Homo sapiens: one gene and its partner. The protein of the gene in region 1 purifies or fractionates together with the protein of each later gene. This does not show direct contact. Each region holds a gene or a part of one and is shown on either strand. Other genes may lie near its edges.

The links. Proteins that work in one complex are often made in the same cells at the same time.
Region 2: the proteins of ZNF584 (region 1) and MPP1 purify together in Homo sapiens (affinity purification with mass spectrometry; one large-scale study listed by BioGRID and IntAct). This does not show direct contact.

The regions. Positions count from the first base shown.
Region 1 is NC_000019.10:58,414,918-58,419,035, reverse strand, and holds the end of ZNF584 (zinc finger protein 584), read right to left. Parts: intron 3,513-4,118; coding exon 3,390-3,512; intron 3,244-3,389; exon of another isoform or gene 3,218-3,243; coding exon of another isoform or gene 3,096-3,217; intron 2,226-3,095; coding exon 1,252-2,225; 3' UTR 709-1,251; downstream 1-708. UniProt on the Homo sapiens protein: May be involved in transcriptional regulation.
Region 2 is NC_000023.11:154,784,986-154,788,485, reverse strand, and holds part of MPP1 (55 kDa erythrocyte membrane protein), read left to right. Parts: intron 1-2,085; coding exon 2,086-2,282; intron 2,283-3,328; coding exon 3,329-3,435; intron 3,436-3,500. UniProt on the Homo sapiens protein: Essential regulator of neutrophil polarity. Regulates neutrophil polarization by regulating AKT1 phosphorylation through a mechanism that is independent of PIK3CG activity.

The sequences.
Region 1 (4,118 bases):
GAGGCAGAAAAAACTCAAGAGACCACCTCCACAAAAGCCATTCCCTCAACTTACGGTGATAGTGCCGGATTCTATTCTCAATCTCTCCACACACAGGGATCAGAACCTCAATATTAAAAGAGACTTGGCAGGGCACAGTGGCTCACAACTATAATACCAGCACTTTGGAAGGCTGAGGCAAGAGGACTGCTTGAGGCAAAGAGTTCATGACCAGCCTGGGCAATGTAGCAAGATCCTGTCTCTATACAAATTTTTAAAATTAGTCAGATGTGGTGCCACACAAGTACAATCCTAGCTATTCAATACGCTGAAGCAGGAGGATCACTTGAGTCCAGTAGTTCAAGTCTGCAATGAGCTAGCTTCACACTACTGCACTCCAGCCTGGGCAAGACTGTGAGACCCTGTCTCTAAAAAAACTAGGCCAGGCACAGTGGCTCCCAGCACTTTGGGAGGCCAAGGCAGGAGGATAGCTTGAGGCTCAGAGTTCGAGACCAGCTTGGGCAATATAGCAAGACCCTGTCCACAAATGAAAAAAAAAAATTAGCCAGGTGTGATGGCGCACACCTGTAGTGCCAGCTACTCAGGAGGCTGAAGCAGGAAGATCCCTTGAGACCAGCAGTTCAAGGCTGTGGTGAGCTATGATGGCACCACTGCATTCCAGCCTGGGCAACAGAATAAGACCATCTCAAAAAAAAAATAAAAAAAAAATTTTAAGCGGCTTAAACAATAAAGCCTTTATTACCACATAGTCCAGAGCAGTATGAGACAGTCCATGCTAGGGCATGACAAATACCATGTGTAATGTCAACCATTTCCATGAAAATGGTAAACCTTCCCAGGAAGCCCCCAGCAGATACCAGCTCAGCTCCTCCGGCCAGAGGTGGGTCATGTCCACAGCTAAACCAGTCAAGGGTAGGGAATGAGGCCTGTTTTGGGCTCCACTATTAACGATTCTCTACTGTTTAGAGCAAGGAGCACAAGGTCTGCTGTCCCACTTGCTGTAGGGACCTTATGGGGTGGATAGAGGTGGATGGCGGTGGATAAACTCAGTGATGTGACACTGCCAACAGCCCCAGGCAAGTCAGAGTGCAATGTGGCTCCCGAAAGCGTCCCACACACCAGGCACACACGGGAACTCTCCCTGGGGTGGGTGTTGGGATGTGCAAGGTTTAGCTTCTTTCGGATGGCACTCTCACGGCCACTCTCCTTAACCTCCTTTCTGGAATAAGACCTTTCCTGATGAACACGGTGCTAGCAGCTAACGACCTTCCCATGTGCCCTGTCCTCCTGACGCCTTTCTGGAGTATGGACTTTCTTGTGCTGAAGGAGGGTGGAACTATGTTTGAAGGCCTTCCCACACTCTGTACATTCATAAGACCTCTCTTCAGTGTGGAACTGCTGGTGCCGATTGCGGTAGGATCTGGTAGTGAAGGTTTTCCCACACAGGCTACATTCATAGGGCCGTTCCCCAGTGTGGACTTTCCAGTGCTGATAGAGGCCTGAACGGGTCACGTAGCCTTTCCCACATTGCTTGCATTCAAAAGGCCTTTCTCCAGTGTGAACTCTCTGGTGAAGAATGAAGCTATTATTGTATTTAAAGAACTTCCCACATTCTGTACACTCATAGGGCCTTTCTCCAATGTGCACTTTCCGGTGCCGAATGAGGGTAGACAGAACACTGAAGGTTTTACCACATTTGCTGCACTCGTAAGGCCTTTCTCCAGTGTGAATCCTCTGGTGTAGAACAAGTGCGTCTTTGCGGTTGAAGGTTTTACCACAGTCACTACACTTAAAAGGTTTTATGCCTGTGTGAACCTTCTGGTGTTTCCTCAGCTTAGACGGGTAACTGAAGGCCTTCCCACATTCATTACACACATGGGCTGTTTCTCCAGTGTGAATTTTTCGGGGGTTAATATGAGCTGACTTCTTGAAAGCACTTCTGCCTGTTGGGCATCTGAAGGGTCTCTCTTCAGAATGCGTTATCAGATGGTCAAGGAGGGCAAAGGCCTTTAAGAACACCTTCCCACAGTCACTGCATTTGAACAGCTTCTCTGCCACATGGACTTCTTGCTGTTGCCCACAACTGGAACCAGGTGGGAAAGCTGCCCCATGCTCAGTGTGCCTTCTTGGTTTCCCCTCACTATGAGTGTCCTGGTGCTGGATGACTCTGTAGCTCTTTAGATGCTCAGGATGGGCTCTCTCATCCTCCACTCTACACAAACCATCTGAAAGCAGAGATGAATCATTACTAAGAGTTGAACTAGAGGGAGGAGGTACCTTAATCACCAGTGCATGTCAGACACACCCAGAAGGACTCCATAGAACTGCTGAAAGGGCCAGGCGTGGTGGCTCACGCCTGTAATCCCAGTGCTTTGGGAGGCCAAGGCGGGCAGATCACGTGAGGTCAGGAGTTCGAGACCAGCCTGACCAACACGACGAAACCCCATCTCTTCTAAAAATACAAAATTAGCCGGGTGTGGTGATGCATGCCTGTAATCCCAGCTACTCGGGAGGCTGAGGCAGGAGGATCACTTGAATCCAGAGGCAGAGGCTGCAGTGAGCTGAGATCGCGCCACTGCACTCCAGCCTGGGCAGTAAGAGCAAAACTCCGACTCAAAAAAAAAAAAAAAAATTAGCCAGGCATGGTGGCAGGCGCCTGTAGTCCCAGCTACTCAAGAGGCTGAGGCAGGAGAATGGCATGAACCCAGGAGGCAGAGGTTGCAGTGAGCTGAGATTGCGCCACTGCACTCCAGCCTGGGCAATAAGAGCAAAACTCCATCTTAAAAAAAAAAGAATTGCTGAGAGGTTGCTAGGAAAGGTCTGGGTTGGGAAAGCCTGGCACAACTGAATATGGCTCCACCAGACTACAGACTAAGGAAAACCTCAACTGAGATGAGGGCACAAGATAGGATATGGTGCAGGGAAGAGAGGTGGGGTCTCCAAGTCACTCCTCTGCAAAGGGTTTCAGCAGGGCCTTGGCTGCTGGTGACAGCCAAGCACTATGAGGAGGCATGTGTCTAGTCCCAGCAAAATGTGATTCCAAAATAGTAGCTGGTGTTTAAGTATTAATTAAGGATTGGCTGAAGTTCAAATACCTGTTTAAGGATATGTGCACATTTCAAGACACGCACTGAGTCGCCAACAGTAGACAGCTCTGCACAGATACAGAGAAGGGCAATGAGGAGACGCAGGCCAGAGAGGCAGGAACATGCGGGGCCTGAAAATCATGGTAGAGATGGCAGACTGCACAGTGTCCACATAAGACAGGAAAGGTGGAAGGAAATAAGGTATGGTCACTGCCCTCAACACCAAGGTATCGGTGTATGCAGGTACTCAGCATTCTGTGAGCCCACTGCTGAAACCAAGGTATTCCCCTCCACTCCACTTACCAAGACCAAAACCTCTCCTGGCTTCTGCTCTGCTGACTGGAGTCACATCCACCCAGCTGGGCACCCACGACTGTTCATCATCCTCCAGCTGGGTAAACACAGGGGATCTCGAAGGTGCAAGTCCTGCGGGTGACAGGTAGTAAAAGAAACAGGCTGGGCATGGTGGCTGATGCCTGTAATCCCAGCACTTTGGAAAGTGAGGTAGGAGATCACTTAAACCCAGACGTTCGCAACCAGCCTGGGCAACACAGTAAGACCCCAACTCTACAAAAAATATATTATTTTAATTAGCCAGGCATGATGGCATGCACCACCTGTAGTCCCAGTTACTAGGGAGGCCATAGTGAGAGGATCACTTGAGCCTAGGAGGTCAAAGCGTCAGTGAGTCACGATCACACCATTGGACTCTAGCCTGGGCAACAGAGTGAGACCCTGTCTCAAAAACAAACAAACAGGCCGGGCGCAGTGGCTCACGCCTGTAATCCCAGCACTTTGGGAGGCCAAGGTGGGCGGATCACGAGGTCAGGAGATCAAGACTATCCTGGCTAACACGGTGAAACCCCCCTTCTACTAAAAATACAAAAAAATCAGGCGGATGTGGTGACGGGCACCTGTAGTCCCAGCTACTCGGGAGGCTTAGGCAGGAGAATGGCATGAACCTGGGAGGCAGAGCTTGCAGTGAGCTGAGATCACACCACTGCACTCCAGCCTGGGCGACAGTGCGAGACT
Region 2 (3,500 bases), on another chromosome or scaffold:
GTTTTTTTTCACCCTTTGGCCATCCTGATGGTGGTATCACATTGTGATTCTAAAAATTCTCTAATGACTAATGAGGGTAAACTCCTTTTTATATGTTTTTTTCCACTTGGATATCCTCTTTTGTAAGATACCAATTCAAGGCTTTTCTTACTGATTTGTAGCAGTTCCTCATATATTCTGGATAAGAGTCCTTTGTCATATGCATCCCAAGTATGTTCTCTTCTTCTGTGGCTTATTTTCTTCATGGTTCCTGTTAATGACTAGAAACTCTTAATTTTAATGAAATCCAATCTACCACTTTTTTCTGATTAGCACTTTTTATGTCTTGTTTTAAAAGTTTTTACTTACCACAAGGTCAACAAGATATTCTCCTGTGTTTTCTTCTAAATGCTTACTTGTTTGATTTTTCACATTTGGATCCACAACCCATCTGGGATTGATTGTTATATACATTGTAAGGTAAGAGGTCAAGATTCCAGTTTTTCCATATGGATACCAATTGAACCAGTATCATTTACTGTACACTGTCACTTTTGTCATGGTAATATTTACAGGTCTATTTTGGAACTTTTTATTCTTTTCTTTTGGACTGTTTGTTTATCCCTGTGTCAAACCTACATATCAGTTTGGATAAAAGAGGCATCTTCACAGTATCCCAGTGGAAGTGATGATAGCAGACATCTTTGTTTATTTTTCCATCTTAAAGGGAAAGCTGGCCAGGTGTGGTGGCATGCGCCTGTAATCCTAGCACTTTGGGAGGCCGAGGCGGGTGGATTGCTTGAGCCCAGGAGTTCGAGACCAACCTGGGTAACATAGCAAGACCCATGTCCTTTGAAAAAGGCAGGGAAAGCTTTTAATCTTTCACTGAGAAGTATGACGTTGGATGTAGGGTTTCTGTAGGTATTCTTTCTCACAGTAAAGAACCTCCCTTCTATTCCAAGTTTGCTAAGAATTTTAATCTTGAATGGGTTTTGAATGTTATCACAGGCTTTTTCTGCATCTATTGAGGGGATCATATGATCTTTTTCCATTTTTATGTTAACGTGGTGAATTTATTGCCCTTCAGGTAGTAAACCTTCTTATATTGCTGAACTAGATCCTGTTTGGTTGTGATTTATTATACTTTTTATACATAACTAAATTTGACTTGCTGATATTTTGTTTGGGGTTTTTACATCTCTGTTGCAGAGAGAAATTATAAGATTCTTGTCAGATTTGGGTATCATGCTTATAATGAGTTGGGAAGTGCCATCATTTTCTATAATCTGTTTTCGTATGAGATTAGCCTTCTTTCTTCAAATGATGCTTGGAAAATTTGTCAATGAAGTAATGAGGTAGGTGTGTGTGTGTGTGTGTGTGTGTGTGTGTGTGTGTGTGTGTGTGTTTGGGAGCAGGAGAGGAGAATTTTCAATAATAAATTCAAGTTCTTTGATAGATATGAGTGTCCATATTTTCAATTGTGAAAACAGTTGTTCAAAGAGTAGCTGCCCTGTACTGAGACAGACGACCCAGATCCAGCAGTAACTGTGGACACGTTGACGTGGAAAGATATCTCATGCCTTCTTTTTTTTTTTTTTTTTTTTTTTTTTTGAGACGGAGTCTCACTCTGTCGCCCAGGCTGGAGTGCAGTGGCACAATCTCGGCTCACTGCAAGCTCCACCTCCCGGGTTCAAGCGATTCTCCCGCCTCAGCCTCCCGAGTAGCTGGGACTACAGGTGCACGCCACCACACCCAGCTAATTTTTGTATTTTTAGTAGAGACGGAGTTTCACCATGTTAGCCAGGCTGGTCTCCAACTCCTAGCCTCATGTGTTCCACCCGCCTCGGCCTCCCAAAGTGCTGGGATTACAGGCGTGAGCCACTGCGCCTGGCTTCTCATGCCTTCTTGTTAAAGGGATTCATTCTGACCCCTCCGCAAACACAATCACTTCAGCGTTTCAATTTCTCTTTCTTGGGTGCTCCCCCACCATTCTTACCTCCCTGTTGTTCATTCCATCCTGACCCCATTTGTCTACAGCAGGACATGCTCTGATGCTGGTGTTTCTTTTGAAGCTGCCGCCTGCAGTTCCTTTTACCTTCTTTTTAGATGTTCATGAGAGCGCAGTTTGACTATGATCCCAAAAAGGACAATCTGATCCCTTGCAAGGAGGCGGGACTGAAGTTTGCTACTGGGGACATTATCCAGATTATCAACAAGGATGACAGCAATTGGTGGCAGGGACGGGTGGAAGGCTCCTCCAAGGAGTCAGCAGGATTGATCCCTTCCCCTGAGCTGCAGGAATGGTGAGCCATTTTTGTGCAGGTGGAAGGGCCATGTGCCTGCCACAAATAACTTAGCTTCAGAAAATCTGTCATTTTGTTTGTAGTTTCTGTTTCTCAACCAAGGAGACCTCCTAGATTTCCTGGCATAATGGGTGGGGGAGGGTTAACCATGCGTTGATAAGCTGGACTGAGAGGCAACCACAGGCAAGGGAGCCCAAATAGCTCTTCATTCTTATGTGGGCCTCTTGCTTCCTTAAACGTTTTCCCCATAGTTACCAAGCACGTGACAGTGCTGGGACTGAGCCCTCCCTGGTCTCCTGTTTCCCAAGCTAGTGCGCTTCTACCAGCCATGCTGTTTCTGGGATTTCCTTGGAGTCCTGCAGAAAACAGTCGCATTTAAGTATGTGTCCTTTAGGCACATTCCTGGTACATGGAAGAAATAATTCCTGTCCCCGAGTCAGATTGCTCACTTAGTCCTGGTTACATCATAGGAATGGCAGAAAAATTCACAAAACAGTTCCAACTGATAAGACATCCAACACTGAGCCTCCCTCTGCCTGTGCAAACTTACCCCAGTGTAAAGATTACAACCATTGTGGGGTTGACACTGAATAGAAATATTAGAATATATTACATGTAGTAATACAAGTTATTGTTTTGTGAAGCAGTTGTTTTAGATATATATGTGGGGTGTGTGTATGTGTTTTGTTTATAGATGTATGTGCAATAATGGCTTGCAATGTACAGTGTATTTCTTAGAGTGAGGTAGGGTCATAAAGGTTTGAGACCTTTATGGTCTAGACCAAAGAAAGAGAGTTGTTTGTGGGTTGTGTCCAGAATGTGCTGACAGGTACTAGATGACACAGACTCAAGGAGCCAGGTCCCTGACTGAGGGCAGGGCACAGTGCAAGATGCACCAAACAGTGTATGGGGTGCTTTGCACACATTATCTCCCACTGTAATGGACACTCAGAGAGTGAAGGGGGTGCCATTAGAGACTGAGTGGCTGGGGGGGGTATGAGGGGAGGGGGAGGAAAGCTGACCCCTTGATTGTCTTTTCCTACCAGGCGAGTGGCAAGTATGGCTCAGTCAGCTCCTAGCGAAGCCCCGAGCTGCAGTCCCTTTGGGAAGAAGAAGAAGTACAAAGACAAATATCTGGCCAAGCACAGCTCGAGTAAGCTTTCTGAGCCTTCTTGCCCCAGGTTCCTGGCAGCATTCACGTGTTTCCCAGTCTCTGTA